Linked DNA regions of Homo sapiens: region 2 is linked to region 1. The links come from fine-mapping of genetic effects on gene expression. A gene starts in region 1. The other region holds a variant in brackets. All regions are shown on one strand. Distances are between the middles of the regions. Region 1 holds the start of CAPN15 (calpain 15). Region 2 overlaps RAB11FIP3 (RAB11 family interacting protein 3).

The links. PIP is the estimated chance that this variant, and not a neighbour inherited with it, causes the effect.
Region 2: its variant is the best candidate, but not a certain one, in a credible set for the expression of CAPN15 in skeletal muscle (FUSION, PIP 0.83).

What each region holds. Positions count from the first base shown.
Region 1 is chr16:521,048-533,443 of GRCh38, reverse strand. CAPN15 (calpain 15) reads right to left here and starts at 5,732. Exons shown (of 14, transcript NM_005632.3): 1 at 5,415-5,732. LINC00235 (long intergenic non-protein coding RNA 235) reads left to right here and starts at 6,037. Exons shown (of 1, transcript NR_024121.1): 1 at 6,037-6,597. It overlaps RAB11FIP3 (RAB11 family interacting protein 3), which reads right to left. Exons shown (of 14, transcript NM_014700.4): 14 at 10,433-12,396. RefSeq lists an enhancer at 6,612-7,173.
Region 2 is chr16:500,210-512,605 of GRCh38, reverse strand. It overlaps RAB11FIP3 (RAB11 family interacting protein 3), which reads right to left. Exons shown (of 14, transcript NM_014700.4): 7 at 9,509-9,602; 8 at 6,979-7,082; 9 at 1,806-1,946. Among named protein-coding and RNA genes, the nearest start is that of LINC00235, 21 kb to the left of the region's middle. The variant A/G (reference allele first, on the strand shown) is at 5,805.

The DNA.
Region 1 (12,396 bases):
GTGCCACCCGGCCACTACAGCTGTCAGCAGGGCGGCCACTGCTTCGAGCCAGGCGGCTTTGCTTCTCTAAGGTCATGCTCTCCATGGCGGACCCACTGCGGTGGGCAGGATGCTCACGCTTCCCGCCCTGTCCTTCCTGGGCCCTGTGTAGGGCCCACCATGGACTCCTCACTCAGCCATCACCCTCTTTTTTGTTGGTTTTAAATTTTTTATTTTATTTTTTGAGATAGAGCCTCGCTCTGTCACCCAGGCTGGGGTGCAGTGGTGCAATCTCAGCTCACTGCAGCCTCCGCCTCCCAGGTTCAAGCTATTCTCCTGCCTCAGCCTCCCAAGTAGCTCGGATTACAGGCGCCCGCCACCGTGCCCAGCTAATTTTTGTATTTTTAGTAAAGACGAGGTTTCACCATGTTGGTCAGGCTGGTCTCGAACTCCAGACCTCAGGTGATCCACCCGCCTCGGCCTCCCCCAGTGCTGGGATTCCAGGCATGAGCCACCATGCCCGGCCCCTCACCCTCTTTTGTGATCAGCATGAGGATGGTGTGCAGGTGTGTCCAGTGGCACAGGCATCACCTGTTTTTTTTTTTTTTTTCTCTGACAGAGTCTCGCTCTGTTGCCCAGGCTGGAGTGCAGTGGTGTGATCTCGGCTCACTGCAAGCTCCACCTCCTGGGTTCACGCCATTCTCCTGCCTCAGCCTCCCGAGTAGCTGGGACTACAGGCGCCTGCCACCAGGCCCGGCTAATTTTTTTGTATTTTTAGCAGAGATGGAGTTTCACCGTGTTAGCCAGGATGGTCTCAATCTCCTGACCTCAGGTGATCCACCCGCCTTGACCTCCCAAAGTGCTGGGATTACAGGCGTGAGCCACAGCGGCTGGCTTTTTTTTTTTTTTTGAGACAGGGTATCACTCTGTCACCTAGGCTGGAGTGCAGTGGTGCCATCTCGACTCACTGCAACCTCTGCCTCCCGGGTTCAAGCAATTCTAGTGTCTCAGCCTCCCAAACATCTGGGATTACAGGCACACACCACCACGCCCAGCTAATTTTTGTATTTTTAGTAGAGATGGGGGTTTCGTCACGTTGGCCATGCTGGTCTCTACCTCCTGACCTCATGTGATTCACCCACCTTGGCCTTCCAAAGTGCTAGGATTACACGCATGAGCCACTGAGCCCAACCGAATTCTACTTTTTTTTCTTTTTTTTTTTTTTGAGACGGAGTATAGCTCTGTCGCCTAGGCTGGAGTGCAGTGGTGCCATCCCGGCTAACTGCAACCTCCGCCTCCCAGGTTCAAGCAATTCTACAGTCTCAGCCTCCTGAGTATCTGGGATTACAGGCACACACCACCACACCCAGCTAATTTTTTTATTTTTAGTAGAGATGGGGTTTCGCCATTTTGGTCAGGCTGGTCTCGAACTCCTGACCTCAGGCAACCCACCTGCCTCGGCCTCTGAAAGGGCTGGGATTACAGGTGTCAGCCACCGCACCCAGCCCCGACTTCTATTTTTAACAGGAAAAAAGGACCAGACAAGCACTCGTGGTTTTTGGCACTTCTCTACTTCTCTGCTTGCCATGTGGTGGCAGAAGCAGCCCTGGTCTGGGCAGCCCGGTGACCTCACTGGTGGCCAAGCAGAAGCCTCTGGGACACAGGGGGCACCTGTCACCCCAGAGAAGGGGACGGGGGCCTTGGGAGCCGTGTGGCCCTGGGCACCTGTCATCCCAGAGAAGGAGACGGAGGCCTTGGGAGCCGTGTGGCCCTGGGGGCACCTGTCACCCCAGAGAGGGAGACGGAGGCCTTGGGAGCCGTGTGGCCCTGGGGGCACCTGTCACCCCAGAGAAGGAGACGGGGGCCTTGGGAGCCGTGTGGCCCTAACCCAGAGGAGGCCTCGTGGCACCTCTTTCCCCATCAGCTCCAGCCTCTCTGCAGCCACCTTTTCAGGAGGGGCAGGAACTCCAGAAAGCTCCAAAACTTATTGCCTTTCTCATTACAGGGGACAGGGAGGTGGGGGGTAGGGAGTGGGGATCAGGCAGGGGCAGAAGGTGTAAGAGGTTCAACCTGCCTGGGGGACTTCACTTACAAAGGGCAGAGGCTGGGTGTGGTGGCGCCCACCTGTAGTCCCAGTATTTGGGAGGCTGAGGCAGGAAGATCACTTGAGCCCAGGAGTTTGAGGCTGCAGCGAGCTATGATTGCAACTGCACTCCAGCGTGGGCAACAGAGCACGACCCTGGCTCAAAAAAATAAAACTTAAAAAATGTTAAAATAAAGGGCAACTTTTTGAAGAGAAGTGAGGGGAAGGCCATGAGGAGGAACTCCCTCATTAGCGGAGCAAGCTCCTTCCACAGAGGAGCAGACGCTGCAGTCACTGTGACATTTAAAAAGCAGCGATGGCCCTGCGTCCTCCTGACATCCCGTCTAGGACCGCCAGGGAGGCGGGGATGGCAACCCTTGAAGCTTCCCTTTGACCTCAGGGAATCTGACAAATCGTTGTATCTGGAGGCCAGGATGGCGAGGCTGATGCCCATGACCCGACGGGACTCATGGGTCCACCCTGGTGCCCTGGATGAGTTCTGGGGAGGGCGGCCACACTGCTGGCTTCCCATGCAGCACTCAGGCAGGCCCCTCAGAGTGTGCAAAGCAACAGCCTGACGCAGCTCATCTTGGGGGGCCCACGGGGTCCCTGCCCTGGGCTAGGATGCCCCCATCCTCCCACAGACCCCATTCCGTGCACCCTGTGGGCCCAGCAGCAGCCCCTGTCCTAGTGGTACAATGTGGCTGTCCACAGACTCCACGCCCAGACACCTCCCTGGGCCACGCACCGGGAGGTCTCCACCCAGCTGTGTGTGACCCACATAGTGACAGGGTGTGGCTGAACGGGTCTAGGTCCAGCCCCAACCCACAGCCTCCCTGCAGCGAGACACACATGCAAAGATCACAGGCCAGCAAGCCTGTTCTCTCAGACTCAGAAACAGGCCGAGCTCAGGTGTGGCCGTGTCCACGCCACAGGGGCTGCTGTGCTACTTTCCTGGAGCACGCAGGAGTCCCCCTGGGCTGCCAGAACCCAGGTATTCAGAACTGCCTGTGGTGAGGGCCAACCCCAGGTGCTCACTGACCGCCTGCTCTGCGCACGGCTGCATAGCGCTAGACACTAGGCCTACCAAGAAACAGAAACGGACCCTGCCCTCGGCGCCACATCCAGCAGGGAGACAGGGCGGTCCCAAGTGTAAGTGCTGCAGGCAGATCCCACAGTGGGGAGCCAGGGACCAGCTACAGGGTCACATGAGAACCGCACAGACCTCAGCGTTCTCTCCAGCGTGGGGCATGAGAGGCCAGTGGCTCCACACAGCTGAGGCACAGCCTGGTGGTGAGAAAACCCACATCCACACCGAGTGGGTACGAGGGATGCGGAAGGGCTTTAGGCAGAGAACAAGTCCCACTGGGCTTCTGGGCACTCCTGCTGTGCCAGGGGTCAGAGGGCAGGACCAGAGGGACAGAGCAGGAAAACAGGAGAGCAAAGCGCACGAGGCAGCCCCCGGGTTGGGGGCCTCCTTCTTCTGTGTCTTATGAGGAAACCACCCAAGCCCACCCTCCGTGTCTCCTGTCATTTCAGCCTCACGGTCCAGGGCCGAGTGGCCACCCAGGACAGACACAGACCTGACAAGTCACCAGCCTTCCTGGGTTTCTGTCACTGTTTTTCAAAGACCCCAAGCTGTTTTGTTTAATGATGTCGTCCTCCTTCTCAGCACCTGTCCACGCCTGTTGCCATGAGTAGAGGCATCACACCGCGGGCCAGAGGGCTGGACCAGGGGCAACTCGGCCACCAACGGCCGAGTTCTTCACTGAGCGGCTCAGGCCCATGAACAACACCTGTGGTTCCGGAGGATTTTCCGGGCAGCAGAATCCTTCCCTCCAATTGCCTCGTGTGAACTGGTGGAACCAGCAGGAGGGAGAGACCAGGCGCTCAGCCTCCCTCGGCCCCTCCCCTGCCATGAACAGCTGTCTCCAGCTTCGGTTCCTCACCTGTGGCACTGGGGTTACCGGAGTGCTGCCCAAGGCCAGGGCAAGAAGCAAGTGAGGGGTGCCCGGAGAGAGAGCCAGCAGGGCTTGAGGCTGTCACACAGATGCAGCATTACAGGGGACCAGCCACTTCCTGCTCTCAGAGACCACGGTCTGTGGAGGCCCAGACAAGAGGCCCTGCGCAGTTATGCAGTTACTGAGCCTCGGGCTCTCCTGGGGACTCAGAGGTCACTGGCTCCTCTGCCAATCAAGGAGCTCTGGAGAGCCTCAGACACAGACAGAAGCAGGAAAAAGAGGGGTGCTCCTCCCGCAAGCAGAAGGACCTCGGAGGAGGCAAGGCACACCCAACCCAAGGCCAGGCCAAGCTGGTTTCCTGCAGGACCTGCCTCCCCCAGACAGGCCAGAAAAACAATTTCTCTTGCCCCACTTCACAGTTGAGAAGTCACTCAGAACCGGAAGGGAGAATCACCCCTATATCCTTGCCCAGCCCCAGACTCTGGAAACGCGGAGGCAATTACGGGGCACTCCCACACTGAACTGTGACTCACGTTTCCGCACCCCTCAGACCTGGGCAGAGGAAGAGATCCGGGTTTCCCGAAGGAGAAGCACACAACTCTTCAGCACCCAACGGAGTCCCAGTCTTCCCCACTGGCCCCACACACCCAGGCCTGGCCTCAGGTTCTGGGCCTCACCATTGCTTTCCGGGTCTTGTTACCTGCAGTCCGGTAACAAACTCCAGAGCAGTAAGGGGGCCCCGAGAGCTCGCCCGGCCAGGGCCAGCTGACCACACAAGAGTTCCCCCGGTCAGGACTAGAGGGGCCCCTTCTGCAGCCAGCGGGAGGACAGCAGATTTGCAACTTCCCAGCTGGTGCCGCAGCAGCCCCAGAGGAACACGGAAGAGAACACTGGCATGGCTGGCACAGACGGGGCTCCCGCCAGCCCCTCCACGCCAGGTGGCCGCCCCCAGGCCGTTCCCCAAGTGAGGGGAGTGATGCCCGCACCAAGCACAACATCCCTAAGGCGGCCAGGACCGCACGATGGGCCCGGATATAAGGGCACTCAAGGGCAGGCAGGGCCGAGGCCGCCTCCGGTGTGCGCGGCCCCCGGGGCTGGCCTCAAGTGACCCACATGGCCCAGGTCCCTGCCGACTTCCCGCCTTCCTCTGGGTTCCTCTGCGAAGCATCGCCCAGCCCTGGCCCCCACCAGCCTGGAGGCGCCAGCGGGCGGCGGGCTGACCCCACTCCGGGGGCCCTGCCGTCCCTGCCCTGGCTCGGAGCCCGGCGCGCCCGGCCCCCGAGGCCTCCTGCGCCCCGCCGAGCCCGCGCTCCCCGCCGCCCTCCGGGCCCGCGCTCCCCGCCCGGGGTCCCCGGCTGGGCGCCCGGCCGGGCCCGGCCGACGGGACTCACCTCCACAGCCCGGCGGCGCCGCCTCGTCCTCGCGGCCCGGGCAGCGCGGCCCCGGCCCCCGGGCCCGCTCGCCCCCGCCGGCCGATCCACAACTTCTGCCTCCGGAGAGCGGCGGGGCCCCTCTCGCCGCCGGCCGCGCTGCCCGGACGGCCTCCCGCTCCTCAGCCGCGGGGCGCCCCGACCCGGCTCCGGCCCCGGCCCCTGCCCGCGTCCGGCGCCCGCCTTACGCTGCCTTCGTAGCGTAGCGCCCGGCCCGGGCCCCGCGGCTACGGCGCGCCCGGGGCGCACGCGGCGCTGTGAATCGCGCGCCCGGACTACGGCTCCCACAGGGCTGCGCGGCGCCGACGGGGCGGAAGCTCGGGGCGGTGCCTGCGCGAGGCAGGCCGGGAGTTGTAGTCCTCGGGTGGCGCCCTCCCAGTCCGCCGACCGCCCGGGCCACTTCTCCTGCCCTCGCTGCTGGAGACGGCCGGGCCCGAGGCCTCGGTCCCCGGGAGGCGCCGCGCTCCAGGATTATCAGGGAGTGGGGCGGCCCGAGGAGGAGCTGGAACTACAACTCCCAGAGGGCCTTGCGAGGGGCACGGAGGGGCGGGGCCTGCAGCCGCGGCGTCTGCGCATCAGCGGCGTCACAGACGCGTGGGGCTCGCGGGGAGCCGGGCTGGGGCCGTCCGTGTCCCGCGGGGCTCTGGGCGGCCGCTCGACCGAGGACCCACGACTCCGCCCCGACCCCGCCGTGTTCGCGAGACCCGGAGACCCCTTCGCGCCTTCCAGGACCGCCCCTTTCGCGACGCTGCGTGCTGTGCTTGGTCCTGGCGGCCAAGAGCGGCGGTGGCAAGGGGACCGCCCTGGCCCGAGACGCGGCCTGGCCTCGCAGCGTCGCTTGGGCACAGCCTCTCTAGGCCCCTTCGTCCTCGGTCGCGGAGGGACGCCATTAAACGGCCACGCCGGGCTCAACTGGGACGCGGCCCACGGCGCCCAACCAGGGCCTGGGGGAGGGAAGCCGGGGCGACTCCTGGGTCCTTCCAGGACCCTTGCGCAGGCCTCATTCTCTCCCCGGAGGTCCCCTTCCCGCTGCCCTGAGGCCACTCTCCTGCCAGCAGCTGCTGGGCCGGCTCTCGGGAGAATGCCTTGGCGTCAAGCTTATCAGGCTGCAGGGCGGGACGCGAGTGCTGAGGGCAGCCAGACTCCCGCTCTTAGGTGCACTTGAGGAGCCTGAGAAGGCAGTGGCTCTGCGGGAGAGGGAGACACAGGAGCAGGGCTGGTCCGCCGAGATTCCGGAGAGACGGTTGTGGGCCGATTCTGTGGCGAGATTTACAAGTGGGAGGTTGGGTGACGATTGCTCCTGGGCCAGAAAATCTAAGCCAGTCTCAGCAAGACCTACAAGGCCAGGGCCAGTGCTCCTCAGAGGATATTCATGCTCCAGGAAAGCCAAGGATGGGCCTCCGTCATGCTGAGATGCCGCAGCAGGGACACCTGTGTCCCACGTGGAGCTCGGCTTCTAGCTGCAGTCAGTGCAGAAGCTGGCAGGAGGGGTTTATTTCTGTCCTCGGAAGCTTTTGGTAAGGACACTTCATTCCTGTGTCTTGGACACCTCCCCCTAGGTCTGCTGCCCCCTCTGTGGAGACAGGCAGGGCAGCTGGATGTGCCGTTTGTTCCCAGACTATATCCATGCCAAAGCATCCCAAGGGCAGGAAATGTGTCCCCGGGGGCCAGTGGGGGTCTGGGGGCACAGAGGGCTGCAGAGTGAGAGCTGGCTCTCCTCTCTGCAACTTGGACAAGGCTCTGGGACCCTGTCCTCCCCAGCTTCCTCACCTGCATGGCAGGATACTGGCCAAGTGTGGCTTTCGAACCACAGGAGAGGGTGCAGTCAAGGCCTCACTCAGGGACCGCAGGTTCTCTTCCCTTCCCAGTCCTTCCCTGGCACTGCCTAGGTGGCTCCCTGGCCAGGGGCCAGTGGTCTAGCCAGCAGGCCTTATAACCTCCCCACCAGAGAGGCAGCTGCAGTTGAACCTGTTGATCTGATGCTGAGGGCCCTGCCAGCTCACTGCAGAGTGGCCAGTTCTGGCCAGTTTTGCTAGGCCAGGCCCATTTGGGGTGAGGAGAGGGTGGGAGCACCCCAGCTCTCCCCAGTAGCCTGTCATGGTGAAGGAGGAAGCCCATTCACCCAGAAGAGGGCCTCAGGAGGCGTCTTCAAGGTGACTGAGGTTTCCCCGCACAAGGAGAGTGCTGGAGGGAATGGGTGCGATGAGAGAAATGAGTCACTCGTGCCTCCGTGAGGCCAGCCTGTGATTGTCTTGAAGATTCTGAGTCACAAGACATCAGGCACACAGGCGTGAATTGTAAATGACTGCACAGCAGAAGGTAAGTGACTCTGGATTATCCAGACCATTGACCGAGCCCTGCTCCGTGCCAGTGCTTCCTGGCCTGAGGACACGACTCTCACATCCAGACAGACCTGAGCAGCTAACGCAAGTGCGCAGAAGCTCGCCAAGTGCCCAGAAGAGCCAAGAGGCGAGCCATGAATCCCCCCTGGAGGAGAAGAGGATGGGGAGGGCCAAACAGAAAGAACTGAAACTGGAGGCATCTGTTCAGGCACCCAGAGAAAGCCTCACGCGCACAAAGCAGCAAACAGAACAAACCCCAGTGCCATCATGGAGCCCAGACTTGAGCACACAGGGACCCTGGCGTGGAGCACGAGGGTGCCAAGGCCCGCAGGTGGCTGACTTGTGTGCTCTGGTGCCATGCTCAGATTTGATGGGATGACCCTGCAATTGCCTGCTTTGTGAGCCACACAGGCCTGGGTCAAAAAGACGACGGACCACCAGCCTGGGCAACACACAAAGCGAAACCTGTCTCCACTTAAAAGATAATTAGGGTGTGGTGGTGTGTGCTTGTGGTCCCTGCTACTTGGGAGGCAGAGGCAGGAGCATCACTTGAGCCCGGGAGGTTGAGGCTGCAGTGAGCTGGGATGGCACATGGCGCTCCAGCCTGGGTGACTGAGTCCGTCTCAAAAAAAGAATGGGCGGCCGGACAGGTGAAAATAACAATGGACGGGGCCCTGGGAGAAGTTCCCGCCTTTCTCTGGGCCACCACCTCCAGGTTACTGGACTGCCAGCAGGTAGAGGGGCCAGGGTGCCATCCGGGGGGCCGCTGAGGGGGTCCAGACTTCCTATACCTGCCCTTCAGCAGAGGCAGGCTGGGGCGGTCCTCATGTGAGGGGCTCTGCACCCACATCCGGGGGGCCGCTGAGGGGGTCCAGCCTTCCTATACCTGCCCTTCAGCAGAGGCAGGATGGGGCGGTCCTCATGTGAGGGGCTCTGCACCCACGTCCGGGGCTCTTGTTCCAGGGCAGGGGCAGAGCCGCTCCTCTCTATCCTGCCGGGCAAGACTCCTTGGTGCTCTTCCATCGGGCAGAACTGACCAAGACTCAGAACATTCAATGTCAGGAGCCAGCTGGGGACAGGATCTGCCTTGGGAGACTTGGCAGGCCCAGTGACCATCCCACTGCACAGCTGGGGGTGGGGGCGACACTCCAGAGGGACACGTTCGGGCCTCCTGGGGGGTGCAGGCTTCTGGGCACGTCCACCAGGCATGCACACCGGCCACCCCACCCTGCTCTCGCTCACCCACAAGGTCTCTGGCAGCCCTTCCGGGAATGTTTCCATTTCATCCTGTGTCCTCCTGTCTCAAACTCCTTTGGGCTGGAGACCCCAGTGGGTCATCGAGGTGGGGCCAGCTGGACTGTGGACAGCCCCATGTTTAAAATCTAGCGTGGAAACTGAGGTGCTCCTAGACCACAGTGGGGTATCAGGAGGAGGAAGCTGCTCCCCTTCCCCTCCCTGGCTCTGGCCTGGCAGCGTGGAGTGAGTTCCCCTCCCCACCTCCAGCTTCTCCCTCTAGGCAGAGATGGGTCTTACTGGCACCACACAGACCCCTGGGTAGGTGGGAGAGCAGGTCTTTTTCCTGGGAGGAGGAACTTGGCCTTGGACACACCCACACCGCCCATGTCACTCCTCAGTTCTTTTTTTTTTTGAGACGGAGTCTCGCTCTGTTGCCCAGGCTGGAGTGCGGTGGCGTGATCGCTGCTCACTGCAAGCTCCACCTCCCAGGTTCACGCCATTCTCATGCCTCAGCCTCCCAAGTAGCTGGGACTACAGGTGCCGGCCACCACGCCCGGCTAATTTTTTTGTATTTTTAGTAGAGACGTGGTTTCACCATGTTAGCCAGGATGGTCTCGATTTCCTGACCTTGTGATCCGCCTGCCTGGGCCTCCCAAAGTGCTGGGATTACAGGCGTGAGCCACCGCGCCCGGCCTGTCACTCCTCAGTTCTAACTCATGAAGCAATCAGGGTTCTTGGGCCCTGTGACCTGGAACCATTCTGCTGCACCTGCACTGAGGGTTCAAGGACTCCTCACTGTAGGCCACGCCTGGTCCTCTTCTGGTCACCAGCCCGCAAGCAGCAGCTGGGCTGAGGGGACTGGCAGACCTGGGTCCTCAGCTTCCCTGGGCCTTGGTTTCTCCATCTCCATCTGCATCTGAGAGTGACAGGCAGGCGGGCATCTCGCGCGGGGGGCGGGAGAGCGAGAGCCGCAGATGCACAGTCCGCTTCCTGGATGCTGGACCAGGTGGTCCAGTTTTCAAGGCTTGTGTTTTTGGGGGACTCTTGATCAGATGGGACCACTCCCCGCAGGCCATTCTTTGTGGCTGCAGTGGCACTGAGCTCTCTCAGACTCCCTGGCTGCCCATGACCTCGGGAGCCCACTTCCGTCGGGACCTGCCTCCTCACCTTCCCGTGCCTGTGGTGCTGGTACTGTGTCTGCCCCCTCTTCTGGGGGATGTCCTCCCACCACCCTGCACATCACTGCCCTTTTAAATTCTTTCTGAAATGGGGTCTCGCTGTCGCCCAGGCTGGAGTGCAGCGGTGTGATCACAGCTCACTGTAACCTCCGTCTCCTGGACTCAAGCAATTCTCCCACCTCAGCCTCCCAAGGAACTGGGACTATAGGTGCGCACCACAATGCCTGGTTAATTTTTTATTTTTTAGAGATGGGGCCTTGCTATGTTGCCCAGGCTGGTCTTGAACTCCCGGGTTCAAGCGATCCTCCTGCCTTGGCCTCCCAAAGTGCTGAGATTATGGCGTGAGCCTCTGCGCCCTGCCCCCCACTCTTCTCTTAATCCCGGGGACGTTTTGACGGCTCTCCCGACATGGGACGTACGTCCCCAGAGGCGTGTGACCCAGAGCCCTGATGCCCACACAGCCCTGTGCTGCCCAATTTGCCCCGCCCCACCTGCCCCACCTTGATGCTGTCTCAGCAGCTCGTCAGGATCCAGAACCTGGCTGGAAAGCTGCCAGGCTCCACTGGGCCTGGAGGTGCAATCCTACGGCCTTGGAAGGGTCTTAGTCTGACCAAGCTGCAGAGCCAGGCAGGTCTGCTGGGTTCTGAGCTCAGACAACTGATGGCCTCGGACGCCTTGAGGGAAGCTGGGCCAGGCCCAGAAGACTCCCACCCCACCCTGTGGCCCCCCTGGAGGAAGAAGCCGGCCTCTGCGTGTGCAGTAACAGCTTTAATCTGTGGTGGCCCCTGCCCTCCTGCATCCAGGCAGGAAGAGCCGTTTCTCGGGGAATTAAAGCAGGAGCGTTTCCCACACTGTCTCCTGGGAGTCCATGCTTACAGTGACAGCACTGCTGAGTGGTGCCATGTCACCAGGGCTGGGCCTGGGCACAGAGAGGCAGGGTGCCAGTCTTTATATATTATACATATATATATATATATATATATATATATTTCATGTGTATACACAGTTTTCTCTTGAAAGTATTAAAAAATTGATCAACCTTCAATCTATAAAAAATACCTACTCTACATGATAGAAAAATCTCTCCTCCAAGTTTACACTGATTTACACCCAAGGCTTTCCCCAAATGTACAATAGGAGGCGACCTCTTACATCCTAGCGTGGAAGGCGGCGGATGTGGGGCCACACGTACACGCGCGCGCACACACACGCAGCGGGTGGCCAGTCTTGGTGATGGGGTCTGGGCCCACCCGGGAATGCTGGGGGTTGGGGCAGGCCCGCGGTCCTGCGGGGTGACACCGCTGTGCCTGGGGTGCAGACCCCGAGAAGCACAGGCCCCCTCCTGCTCTGCTGTGAGTCTTCCCTGCCCTCTCCCTCCTGCAACATGCACCCTCGGGGAAGAACCACGATTTCTAAGTGAGACACACCCAGAAGAAAACAGGGTTCCCGATGTTTGGATTCTGGCCTGGGAAGTGCGTGGGGAGGGTGTGGCCTTTAGGAGGCCGGGCCAGGCCGCACCTGTGGAGAAGCAGCACCTGGGAGCCAGAGGGGCCTGTGGCATCCACCCTGCCCAGGGAGAGAGCGCCACACAGCGGTCATCTCAGGTCCTGATGTCGGAGTGGAGGCCCCAGAGGCTCCTGCCCGGCCCCCATAGGTGGTCAGAGCCCCCAGGGGTTACTGCAGCGAGGACTGGGCCGTGGGAACAGCCACATGGCCTGGAGGCCCCAGAGCTGGACTGAGGTGACCACATCTGGCTGGGCAATGGCCCGAGCAGCGTAGGGAGAGCTGGGGAACGCACCAGCCTTGCCCACCCGTCCTTCCCCCACCACCATGTCCGAGGTGAGGGTCTGGGAGCCCGTCAGCCATCAGGAGCGGCTCAACATGGGTGACACGGCACCAGCGTACTTATGTGGGTGGCTTAGGCAGCAGCACCCCTGGAGGGACCTGTTTTCTTCCTTTCTTCCCAACAGGGCTGCACGTGGGAAGAGGGACCACCACAAGGAGGCCACAGCAGGGCTCACCCCACACCGCTGCACAGAGAGGCTCTCCAGCCCATCCTGCTGAACTGAAGTGTACGCGTTCATGGCCAGCTTGACTCAGGGCTGGGAAGCTCTGGGCCCCCGGAAGGTCAGCGCTGATGGACGGCCCTGCCACAACCCTCATCCTCTGTGGACCCCGGGCCCTGGG
Region 2 (12,396 bases), 21 kb after region 1:
CCCCACTGCACTCTAGCCTGGGCGACAGGGTGACACTTGGTCTCAAAAAAAAAAAAAAAAAAAAAAGGCCGGGCGCGATGGCTCATGCCTGTAACCCCAGCACTTTGGGAGGCCGAGGCAGGTGGATCACGAGGTCAGGAGATCAAGACCATCCTGGCTAACACGGTGAAACCCCGTCTCTACTAAAATTACAAAAAATTAGCCGGGCGTGGTGGCAGGCACCTGTAGTCCCAGCTACTCGGGAGGCTGAGGCGGGAGAATGGCGTGAACCCGGGAGGCAGAGCTTGCAGTGAGCCGAGATCGCGCCACTGCACTCCAGCCTGGGCGACAGAGCAAGACTCCATCTCAAACCCACCCACCCCCACCCAAAAAAAAAAGATTGGTATTTTAAAAAGACTGGATACGTTGGTTAGACATGGATTTACAGAAACCAGCACCCGCACAGCGTCAGGGTCAGTCTTTGAACCGATCCCTTGTGGTCTTTGGGAGAGTTTCAAAGTCTTCTCCACATAGCTTTGCCCCTTTTTCTAAACTTTCAGGTTATTCCTAGCCACTGCCGGTTCTGGGGTGGGCGGGCTGTCGGAACCTCTCCTGCCTGGCCTGCAGTTTCTGGGGTGGGTGGGCTGTCAGGAACCTCTCCTACCTGGCCTGCAGGTTCTGGGGTGGGCGGGCCGTCGGGGAACTTCTCCTACCTGGCCTGCAGGTTCTGGGGTGGGCGGGCCATCAGGGAACTACTCCTACCTGGCCTGCAGGTTCTGGGGTTGGCGGGCCGTCAGGAACCTCTCCTACCTGGCCTGCAGTTTCTGGGGTGGGCGGGCCGTCAGGAACCTCTCCTGCCTGGCCTGCAGTTTCTGGGGTGGGCGGTCTGTCAAGAACCTCTCCTACCTGGCCTGCAGTTTCTGGGGTGGGCGGGCTGTCGGGAACCTCTCCTGCCTGGCCTGCAGTTTCTGGGGTGGGCGGGCCGTCGGGAACCTCTCCTACCTGGCCTGCAGGTTCTGGGGTTGGCGGGCCGTCGGGGAACTTCTCCTACCTGGCCTGCAGGTTCTGGGGTTGGCGGGCCGTCGGGGAACTTCTCCTACCTGGCCTGCAGGTTCTGGGGTTGGCGGGCCGTCGGGGAACTTCTCCTACCTAGCCGGCAGGTTCTGGGGTTGGCGGACTGTCGGGGAACTTCTCCTACCTGGCCTGCAGGTTCTGGGGTTGGCGGGCTGTCGGGAACCTCTCCTACCTGGCCTGCAGTTTCTGGGGTGGGCGGGCCGTCAGGAACCTCTCCTGCCTGGCCTGCAGTTTCTGGGGTGGGCGGGCTGTCAAGAACCTCTCCTACCTGGCCTGCAGTTTCTGGGGTGGGCAGGCTGTCGGGAACCTCTCCTGCCTGGCCTGCAGTTTCTGGGGTGGGCGGGCCGTCGGGAACCTCTCCTACCTGGCCTGCAGGTTCTGGGGTTGGCGGGCCGTCGGGGAACTTCTCCTACCTGGCCTGCAGGTTCTGGGGTTGGCGGGCCGTCGGGGAACTTCTCCTACCTGGCCTGCAGGTTCTGGGGTTGGCGGGCCGTCGGGGAACTTCTCCTACCTGGCCGGCAGGTTCTGGGGTTGGCGGACTTTCGGGGAACTTCTCCTACCTGGCCTGCAGGTTCTGGGGTTGGCGGACTTTCGGGGAACTTCTCCTACCTGGCCTGCAGGTTCTGGGGTTGGCGGGCTGTCGGGAACCTCGCCTACCTGGCCTGCAGTTTCTGGGGCTGGCGGGCTGTTGGGGACCGTCTCCTACCTGGCCTGCAGGTTCTGGGGTGGATGGGCTGTTGGGAACCGCCTACCTGGTCTGCAGGTTCTCGATCTCAATGCTCTTCTCCCTCTCCATCTTGCACAGGAGCTCCTTCTGACGCCGGGTCTCTTCCAGGACCATCTCGCAGGCTCTCAGCTCCTGCTCCTTCAGCTGCTCCTCCAGGGCGTTTGCTCTTGAAAGGCAAAGGGAGGAGCTGAGCTGTCTCCAGGCAGGGTGTGCAGTGGCTCCACCCATGCCCAGAAGCTGCCTCAGGACCTCCAGAGAACCTGCCTCCACTCGGGAGTAGGGCACCGAGAAGGGCATCCCCGAGCTCTGGTCAAGGCAGTTCTGAAGCAGCGAATACACCCCCAGATGGCCTCGCCTCCCACACTAAAGGCACCTGGGGTGGCCGGAGCAGTGTCCACTGCACCTAGGCCCAGCTGATACCCACAGGCACTGCCCGCTTGTGGCCTGTGGACCGCAGCACTCAGAGGGCCTGAGCCCGCCAGGTAACTTCTCCTGGTGCACTCTGTGTTCATGCAGCTGCTCCACCTGCAGCCACTACACACAACGCGTGCGCTCAGAGCCCAGAGGCACGGAGCCTCGGGACGGGGCGTGGAGGTGCCAGGGCCACTACACACAACGCGTGCGCTCAGAGCCCAGAGGCACGGGGACTCGGGACGGGGCGTGGAGGTGCCAGGGCCACTACACACAACGAGTGCGCTCAGAGCCCAGAGGCACGGGGACTCGGGACGGGGCGTGGAGGTGCCAGGGCCACTACACACAACGCGTGCGCTCAGAGCCCAGAGGCACGGGGCCTCGGGACGGGGCGTGGAGGTGCCAGGGCCCAAGGGCCACAGCATTTCCAGGAAGTGAGTGTCTGATGAGCACGTGGTCCGCGGCAGCTGAACACCAGAGAACTGAGTGTGCTGGCGGAGTCTGCCTTCAGCTGCAGTACAGTCAGTTCATGGCACATCACCCAAAGGTGCTCACGAGGCTTCCTGAGATGCCAGGTCCACATGGGAGCCAGGACGAGTCTGGCTCTGGCAGCTGGGCACATCCGGGCCCCAGAGGCTGTGAGGGGCCACAAGTGGGGGGGGGGCCCACTCTGCTCCCAGTCCCCTCCAGGCTGGGGAAGTGGGTATAGAGACCAGTCCCATCCAGGTCACCTCAGAGCAGAGGCAGGGCAGGTGTCAGCTAGACCACAGGGGAAAGGGAATATTCCCACAGGGCAGGGAGACCCTGGCCTTCCTGAGATCTTCACAACCATCCGCAGGAGACAGGACTGAACCATCCCAAAGAGAAGGGCACAGGCCCTGCCCACTGACACAGCACAGCCCACGCCCTCTGGCCCTGCCTCGCACAGAGCCTCTCATCCTTGTGGTGCCTCACACGCAGGAGTGAACAGATGGCCAAAGATCACCAGACACAACAGGAAAGCTTTCAACAGGAAGTGGCCAAAGCAAACACCAAGTGAGGACCCAGGGAGACACATGATGCAGCAGACAGCAGGGAAAGGTCCCCGAGCCAGCGGCCTCCGCGAGCAGAGAGCCAAAGCTGCAGCGTCAGGGCAGCCTGCTGCAGAAGAGACAAACAACAAGGAACAGCTCCCAGGAACTGAAAGCGTGGGAAGGACAATTTAAAAGTCCGATTGAGATGCCGGGCTCACGCCTGTAATCCCAGCACTCTGGGAGGCAGAGGCGGGCAGATCACCTGAGATCAGGAGTTCGAGACCAGCCTGACCAATATGGTGAAACCCTGAATCTACTAAAAATACAAAAATTAGCCGGATGTGGTGGCAGGTGCCTGTAGTCCCAGCTACTCGGGAGGCTGAAGCACGAGAATCATTTGAACCCAGGAGGCAGAGGTTGCACTGAGCAGAGATCACACCACTGCACTACAGCCTGGGCAACAGAGTGAGACTCTGTCTCAAAAAAAAAAAAAAGATCTGATCAAGAGTTGAAGGAGAAAACTGAGAATATTACATAGAAAAAAAGAACAGAAAGATAAAATTAGAGACGAGGAAAGTTTAAAAAAGGAGAGGAAACATCCAGAAGGCCCACTGTGTGACTAGCAGATGTTCAGACAGATGAGAGGGAGAGGCCGCATGGTGAAATAACTTCAGAAGTCTTCCCACAGCGAAAGGACGCGTTTTCCAGATTTAAAGGCTGAAAACCTAGGCCAGGCGCGGTGGCTCATGCCTGTAATCCCAGCACTTTGGGAGGCCGAGGCAGATGGATCACTTGAGGTCAGGAGTTCAACACCGGCCTGGCCAACATGGTGAAACCCCGTCTCTACTAAAAATACAAAAATCAGCCGGGCACAGTGGCGCATGCCTGTAATCCCAGCTACTTGGGAGGCTGAGGCAGGAGAATCACTTGAACCCGGGAGGCGGAGGTTGCCGTGAGCGGAGATTGTGCCATTGCACTCCAGCCTGGGTGACACAGCAAGGCTCTGTCTCAAAAAACAAAACAAAACAAAACAAAACGAAATAAAGGCTGAAAACCAGGTGCACAGCACGGCAAATAATACAAGATCCTCCTCCAAGTATGTAGGGTGGGAAACAGAAGTTACAGAGAACATCAAGGCCCTGCGGCACCAGAGGTTCCTCAGTCACAGCACCGGGTCAGAGGTCTTCACATTCTCAGGGAATTCGATCTCTGACCTAGAATTTTATGCCCAGCTACACTATGGACTGGAGCAGGGTGGGAGGAAAAAGCACTTCCACACAAGCAGTTCTCAGAGCATCTGGCTCCTGTGCTCCCTTTTCCAGGCAACTATCAGTGACATACTCAGAAAATGAGTTGGCAAAACAGAAGAAAACGTGGGACCCAGAAAATAAGGAATCAAACACAGGAGAAAGCACTCGGAATTCCTAGGATGGCAGCTGTACGGCACAGCTAGAGAGCAAATGGCTCAGAACGGGCAGATGATACTGAAAACGGGAAACGTACTCTTAGGATGGCAGCTGTATGGTAGGGCTAGAGAGCAAATGGCTCAGAACGGGCAGATGATACTGAAAACGGGAAACGTACTCTTAGGATGGCAGCTGTATGGTAGGGCTAGAGAGCAAATGGCTCAGAACGGGCAGATGATACTGAAAACGGGAAACGTGTTGTTTAGGACGTTGGAGGTGAGCACCACAGGGAACAGCCACAGGAACTGAATGTGGCCGGGGCTGCACTGCAGACGGTCAGTGGGTGGTGCCAGGCGGCAGTGTGGACTTCACACCACACACACGGAAAACAGATGAACATACTCCAGACTCAAATGAAACCTCCACAGTCAACTCGACAAAGGCATCTAGGCTGGACATGGTGGCTCACGCCTCTGATTTCAGCACTTTGGGGGGCCAAGGTGGGAGGATCGCTTGAGGCCAGGCGTTTGAGACCAGCATGGGCAACATGGCAAGACCTCATCTCTATAAAAAAATTAAAAACTAGGCCGGGCACGGTGGCTCACGCCTGTAATCCCAGCATTTTGGGAGGCTGAGGCAGGCAGATCACAAGGTCAGGAGTTCAAGACCAGCCTGGTCAATATGGTGAAACCCCGTCTCTACTAAAAATACAAAAATTAGCCCAGCGTGGTGGTGCATGCCTGCAAGTCCCAGCTACTCAGGAGGCTGAGGCAGAAGAATCGCTTGAACCTGGGATGCGGAGGTTGCGGTGAGCCAAGATTGCGCCACTGCACTCCAGCCTGGAGACAGAGAGAGACCCCGTCTCAAAAAAAAAAAAAAAAAAGCTGGGTGTGGTGGTGCACACCTGTAGTCCCAGCTACATCGAAGGCTGAGGGAGGCGGGTCGCTTGAGCCTGGGAGGTGGAGGCTGTAGTCAGCACTCAGCCTGAGCAACAGAGCGAGGCCCTGTCTCTCAAAAAACAAAACAAAACAAGTGCATCTGGCAGCCCCCCGGATTCTCCTTGACAAGGAGGAGACAGTGGTCTTTGGTGGCACTGCTTATGTGTAGCGCACTACGGGAGTCCAGCCCCTTCACCAGCATGCCTGGCCCCTCTCCACTCTGCAGCAGGGGCTGGTAGCAGGCCCTCTTCTGCTG[A/G]GAATCCTGGAGAACGGGCAGCCGCCAAGCCCAGGGTCTTCACTCCACAAGAGCACATGCTTTGCTTTGTTAGAATTAAAATGATGTGCAAGTTATGCCCACAATCCCATGAGGCATTCCAATTCTCAGCGCTCACAGGGCAGATGGTCACAAATGTTAGTACCGTGAGGGTGAGGGCTTGGGGGCTTTGGGGATGCTGACCACAAATGCCCTGCTGCCAACACACGTGTGTGCAGGCTGCTCAGAGCCCTGAATCTACCTGCTCAGTGGTGATGAAGACACTGAAGCTTCAAGGGACAGGGCCCTTGGCCGAGCTGAGAATATGTGGAAGAGCCGGGATGTGCCCGCGCAGCTGGGCAGGGACAGAAGCTCACAGGAAGAACCTCTTCTGCAGATCCCACAGGTGCCTCATAGGCCTCCTGGCTGCCTCCTCTGCCCACAAGAGGCTGCCGGTGCCCAGCTACAGGTGTCATAGCCTGGGTAGCTGACTCCTGGGACAAGCTCATCTTACTTTGCACCGGAAACAGTCCTGCAAATCGGCTATGAGACAACATGGCGTGCCTCGTGTGAAAAACACCGAGAATTACACGGTATTCTAAGAAAAGTCTGCAAACCAGAGTGAGGCAAGCAGCTCCCACTCTTTCTCTGCAAACACGGCGTCACACTTCGCTTCCTCCCCAGCACTCCTGCCCACAGCGATGAGACTGCGCGTCCTGTCGCGTACTCAGCAGTCACTGCTCATTTCGCTTTCTGCTGCTGAGCGACTTCTCTAACCTGCATTCTTCCAGGACGGGCAAACCCCGTATGGACCAGAGTGGTGGGAGAGCTGCACCTCCAGGCCTGCTGGTGAGGCTGAGCACTGCGTGGGTTCGCAGTCAGTTCCTCCTCTGTGTGGGTCAGGTCTCAGCGCTCCCGAGAGGGAGGCAGTGCCCTCCTCTGGCCCTCTGTGTGTCTAGGGTTCCATGAGAGCACCAGTCAGAGCCTCGGGTCGCCTGCCTGCAGCCCACTGGGTAGGCTCAGATGACCACCTGGCACCACCCCCTCAGCCGGCTTCCAACGGGGATGGACGGGTGGCCAAGCCCCTGCTGTGTGAGGTAAAGAGAAGTAAATGGGGGCTGACAGGCGGGCACAGGAGGCGCCACGCAGAGGCCCGGGTCTCCTGGCCCAGGCTCACCTGTGCACCAGCTGCAGGTTCTCCTGCCTCAGGCGGCTGTGTTGCTCACCGGTGGCTGCCGTGTCCTTTTCCAGCTCCAGCACACGCCTTTCCAGGAAGACAACCTTGGCAATGAGACCAGGCTTCAGGGTCAGGCAGCCAGAAGCAGAAGGGCCTGCACCCCCAAGGGAACAACCTGGGAGGCCGCCTGGGGATTTTCTCAGCACAGAATCAGATCCACCTAGCTAGGCTGGTGTTGGATCCAACTTGTCCCATAAACCCACAAAGGTGCAGCTCCTAATGGGGCCGGGGTCTTGGGGAGCACTGTCATTCGACCCACAAATGCACACAGTGCCGCAGCTCTGAGGGCTCGGGGCCCAGGGGTGCCTTTGGACTGGCTGGCTGGTGGGCAGCAAGACTCAGCCCCCCAACACACAGTTGGGTCTCTGCTCAGCCAGATGCAGCTCACAGAGGCAGCCCAGGTGCCCATGGATGCAAGGGACAGACAGATCCATGTCTCGGTCCCTCCCTCAGAGAGTTCACACCAAGATGAGAATCAGACACCTGCGGAGGTAGGAGAAGGAGTGAAGGGAGCAGAGGAGGACTTGGCCTGGGTCAGCAGACTTGAGATGCTAGAGAAGTTGTAGGGAGGAGGTGGTGGGGATGCAAGAGGAGGTGAAGTACAGGAGGAGGTGAGGAGGTACAGGAGGAGGTGAGAGAGTACAGGAGGAGATGGGGGTATAGGAGGAGGTGGGGGAGCAGGAGGAGGTGAGGGGGTACAGGAGGTGAGGGGTGCAGGAGGAGGTAAGGGGGTACAGGAGATGAGGGGGTACAGGAGGTGAGGGGGGTACAGGAGGAGATGGGGGTGCAGGAGGAGGTGAGGAGGGTGCAGGAAGAGGTGAGGGGGTATAGGAGGAGGTGAGGGGGTATAGGAGGAGGTGAGGCGGTACAGGAGGAGGTGAGGGGGTACAGGAGGTAAGGGGGGTGCAGGAGGAGGTGAGGGGGTACAGGAGGAAGTGAAGGGTACAGGAAGAGGTGAGGGGGGTACAGGAGGAGGTGAGGGGGTACAGGAGGTGAGGGGTGCACAAGGAGGTGAGGGGGTACAGGAGGAGATGGGAGTGCAGGAGGAGGTGAGGGGGTACAGGAAGAGGTGAGGGGGGTACAGGAGGAGGTGAGGGGGTACAGGAGGTGAGGGGTGCACAAGGAGGTGAGGGGGTACAGGAGGAGATGGGAGTGCAGGAAGAGGTGAGGGGGGTACAGGAGGAGGTGAGGGGGTACAGGAGGTGAGGGGTGCACAAGGAGGTAAGGGGGTACAGGAGGAGATGGGAGTGCAGGAGGAGGTGAGGGGGTACAGGAGGAGGTGAGGGGGGTACAGGAGGAGGTGAGGGGGTACAGGAGGAGGTGAGGGGGTACAGGAGGAGGTGAGGGGGTACAGGAGGTGAGGGGGTGCACAAGGAGGTGAGGGGGTACAGGAGGAGATGGGAGTGCAAGAGGAGGTGAGGGGGTACAGGAGGAGGTGGGGGGGTACAGGAGGAGGTGAGGGGGTACAGGAGGTGAGGGGGTACACAAGGAGGTGAGGGGGTACAGGAGGAGGTGAGGGGGTACAGGAGGTAGTGAGGGGGTACAGGAGGTAGTGAGGGGGTACAGGAGGTGGTGAGGGGGTACAGGAGGTGGTGAGGGGGTACAGGAGGAGATGAGGGGTACAGGAGGAATTGAGGGGGTACAGGAGTAAGTGAAGGGGTCACAGAAGGTGAGGGGGTGCAGAAGGTGAGACGGAGTCTCCCTCTGTCGCCCAGGCTGGAGTGCAGTCGTGCAATCTCGGCTCACTGCAACCTCCACCTCCCAGGTTCAAGTGATTCTCCTGCCTCAGCCTCCCAAATAGCTGGGATTACAGTTGCCCGCCACCATGCGTGGCTAACTTTTGTATTTTTAGTAGAGACGGGTTTTCACTATGTTGGCCAGGCTGATCTCAAACTCCTGACCTCAAGTGATCTGCCCGCCTAGGCCTCCTAATGTGCTGGGATTCCAGGCGTGAGCCACCACATCTGGCTGAAAAGCGGGTCTTGACCACGGCAAGGCTGCCTTGCCCTGGCTGCTGTCACCCATTCCATTCAAGGCCCCAGGAGAAGCCCGTTCCTCAGGCTGTTGGCTCTGCAGTAACTGCAGGGCCAGCCCTTTTCTCCCAAATCATGGGTGCCCCAGGTCGCGTCTCCATGGGCCTGGTGGACTGAATGTCTGGGTGTCCCCCAGCCCGACTCAGACACAGTGGGGGTGGGATACCCGAGGGTGCTCACTCACTGCCCAGTCCACTCCTCCCAGCTGGCCCTTCGTGCACAACAGGAAGACTCCTTTTTCTCACATGGCCACGAGACCCCTTGGGGAAACCTGCCAAAGAGCATCGGGGCTGGATGGACAGTCTGGGGAGCCCTGGAGGACATGGGGTCACCTCCGGCTGTGCTGTCCCCACCTCCCGGGGTGTCTGCAGCGGCCCTTAGGCGTGGCTGTGTTCTAAATCCCCTACTTGCCACCTACCCAGCCCTCCAGGGCCTACCTTGTCAGCAATGTCCTCCTCTGGGCCCTCCATGAGCTCGGGGGAAGGGTCCTCCAGGGCCTCCATGGTCAGGGCCCCTGACTGGTGCAGGTACCTACAGAAAAGGCACAACAACAGAGGGAAGAAAGGGAAAAACCACAGGACATGCTCCGTCAGCACAAGCACTCCCAAGTCAATCTGAAAAGCAGGCAGCAGCATTGCAGGGGACAGGTCCTCCCCTGATCTGGGTGGTGGTCTTCTCCCACTTAAAGCACTATATACAGGGGGAGGTCCCAGGCTGGACATCTTTACCAGGGGCTGGGAGAAAGCAGGCCGTGCTCTGTGGTCTCAGAGTCTTCCTGGCGCTCTTTGGAACCTGACAGAACATGACCTCAGTCCCAGCCAGCGAGTGGCAGAGAGGACTTTGTACTTGGCTGCAATAAAACATGCCCTTCTTCGCAGAGACACGAACAATCTCGTCTCTACCAGAGGCCTGTGAGACATCAGCTCAGGACCTTGACCTGCAGACACCTCCCCTGTGCACATTCTTGATCTCAGACTTTCACAGGTGCTTTCTGTGGCAGGAAGAGTGAGGGTCCCAGGAAAGGTGTGGATCCCAGAAGTCTCACTCAGTGTCACCCTCACGGACACACTGGGAAACTGGTCCGACCGAGTCCAGGAAGACAGCAGACACACGTGTCCTCTGTGGCACCAGCTCCTGTGGACACGCCCCCAGCACCGCAGGCCATGCCAGTTACTACCCGGGCCAGGCTCGGGGACACAGCCTCATGGTCCTGAGTAGACGCAAAGGCCCATAGGCTGCGGCCTTGGGGCAGGAGCTTCTCCAGGGAGTGTGAACTTAGGCGCGCAGTAAGCGCGTGCTTGTGGTCACCACGTGGTCAGATTCGCTGTGGTGAATCTGTACCAACCCAAACTTGCCGGGAGTACAGAAAACTCTCAGAGCACTCGCACAGAAGAGCCAACAGCAAAGGTGCGTGTTCAGTTCTTTATACATCCTGGGAACCTCAGTACCAAGCCAGGCTCCAGGCTGACAGCCTGATGCTCAGAACTGCGTGACCGTTAAAAAGCACTGGCCCTCTCCGAGCTTCCTTGCCTATGAAATGGGGGGACCCTCTCCCAGCCTCCTTGCCTATGAAATGGGGGGACCCTCTCCCAGCCTCCTTGCCTATGAAATGGGGGGACACTCTCCCAGACTCCTTGCCTATAAAATGGGGGGACCATCTCCCAGCTTCCTTGCCTATGAAATGGGGGATCCTCTCCGAACTTCCTTGTCTGTGAAATGGGGGGACCCTCTCTGAACTTCCTTGCCTGTGAAATGGGGGGACCCTCTCCCAGCTTCCTTGCCTATGAAATGGGGGACCTTCTCCGAACTTGTCTGTGAAATGGGGGGACCCTCTCCCAGCTTCCCTGCCTATGAAATGGGGGGAGCCTCTCTGAACTTGTCTGTGAAATGGGGGGACCCTCTCCCAGCTTCCTTGCCTGTGAAATGGGGGGACCCTCTCCCAGCTTCCTTGCCTATGAAATGGGGGACCCTCTCCCAGCTTCCTTGCCTGTGAAATGGGGGACCCTCTCCGAGCTTCCTTGCCTATGAAATGGGGGGACCCTCTCCCAGCTTCCTTGCCTATGAAATGGGGGGATCCTCTCCGAGCTTCCTTGCCTATGAAATGGGGGGACCCTCTCCCAGCTTCCTTGCCTATGAAATGGGAGACCCTCTCCGAGCTTCCTTGCCTATGAAATGGGGGGACCCTCTCCGAGTTTCCTTGCCTATGAAATGGGGGGACCCTCTCCCAGCTTCCTTGCCTATGAAATGGGGGTCTAGAGGCAACTGAGGTTTAACCAAGGTCATGCATACAAACAGCTTGGCTAGGGACGTAGCAGAGTAAGAATTCCATAAAATGTTAATATTTTTCCACTGAAAATGTCTACCAAGTGTATGAAGTTCGATTTGCTTCTCAGTACGGACTGGGCTTGAACATTTCCATCTTTTTCCCCATAAACGCTCTGAGGAGACAAGCCCTGTGAACGTGCACCAGCTGGAACACACCGGTGCCCTTCTGGGGCTCTGGGGATTTCATCAGATTCTCAAAAGCTGCTGCTGATACAGATCATGTTCTTGGCCAGTCGCTGCTCTTAAACGCCCATGACCTTGCCCCCAAACATGAGCCACTCCAGGCATGAAGCTGCAACCCAGAGCCCATCCTGAGAGGCCACGACCTGTCAGCACTTCTGAGCTGTCCTAGAGGCGTAGGCACTTCTGGGGCTGACTCGGGGACACAGCCATCCCCAGGCACCCAGCGTGCAGCCACCACACGTGGCCACCAACGTGAGGCAGAGGGTCCTCAGCATGGGTCATGCGGCTGCTTATTTATTTACTTATTTAATTTTTTTTTTTTTTTTTTTTTTTTTTTTTGCGACAGAGTCTTGCACTGTCACCTGGGCTGGAGTGCAGTGGTGCAATCTCAGCTCACTGCAACCTCTGCCTTCCGGGTTCAAGCCATTCTCCTGCCTCAGCCTCCCAGGTAGCTGGGATTACAGGCACCTGCCACCATGCCCAGCTAACTTTTTGTATTGTTTTTTTTAGTAGAGATGGGGTTTCACTATGTTGGCCAGGCTGGTCTCAAACTCCTGACCTCGTGATCTGTGCGCCTCGGCCCCCCAAAGTGCTGGGAGTACAGGCGTGAACCACCGCGTCCGGCTGGGGCTGCTTATTTAAATCCCCTAGAAAGAGGGATTCTCCAGCTACACCACACCCTCACTTGGAAGGACCCTCCTCCCAGAGAGGGAGCTGTGGAAAAAGCCTGACCTGCCCCACAGGGCAGTAGGTCGAGCCTGGCTGGTGAGCAAGGAGGTACGGGGATCCCTGAGGCCTCCCACCCAGGGCCCAGGGA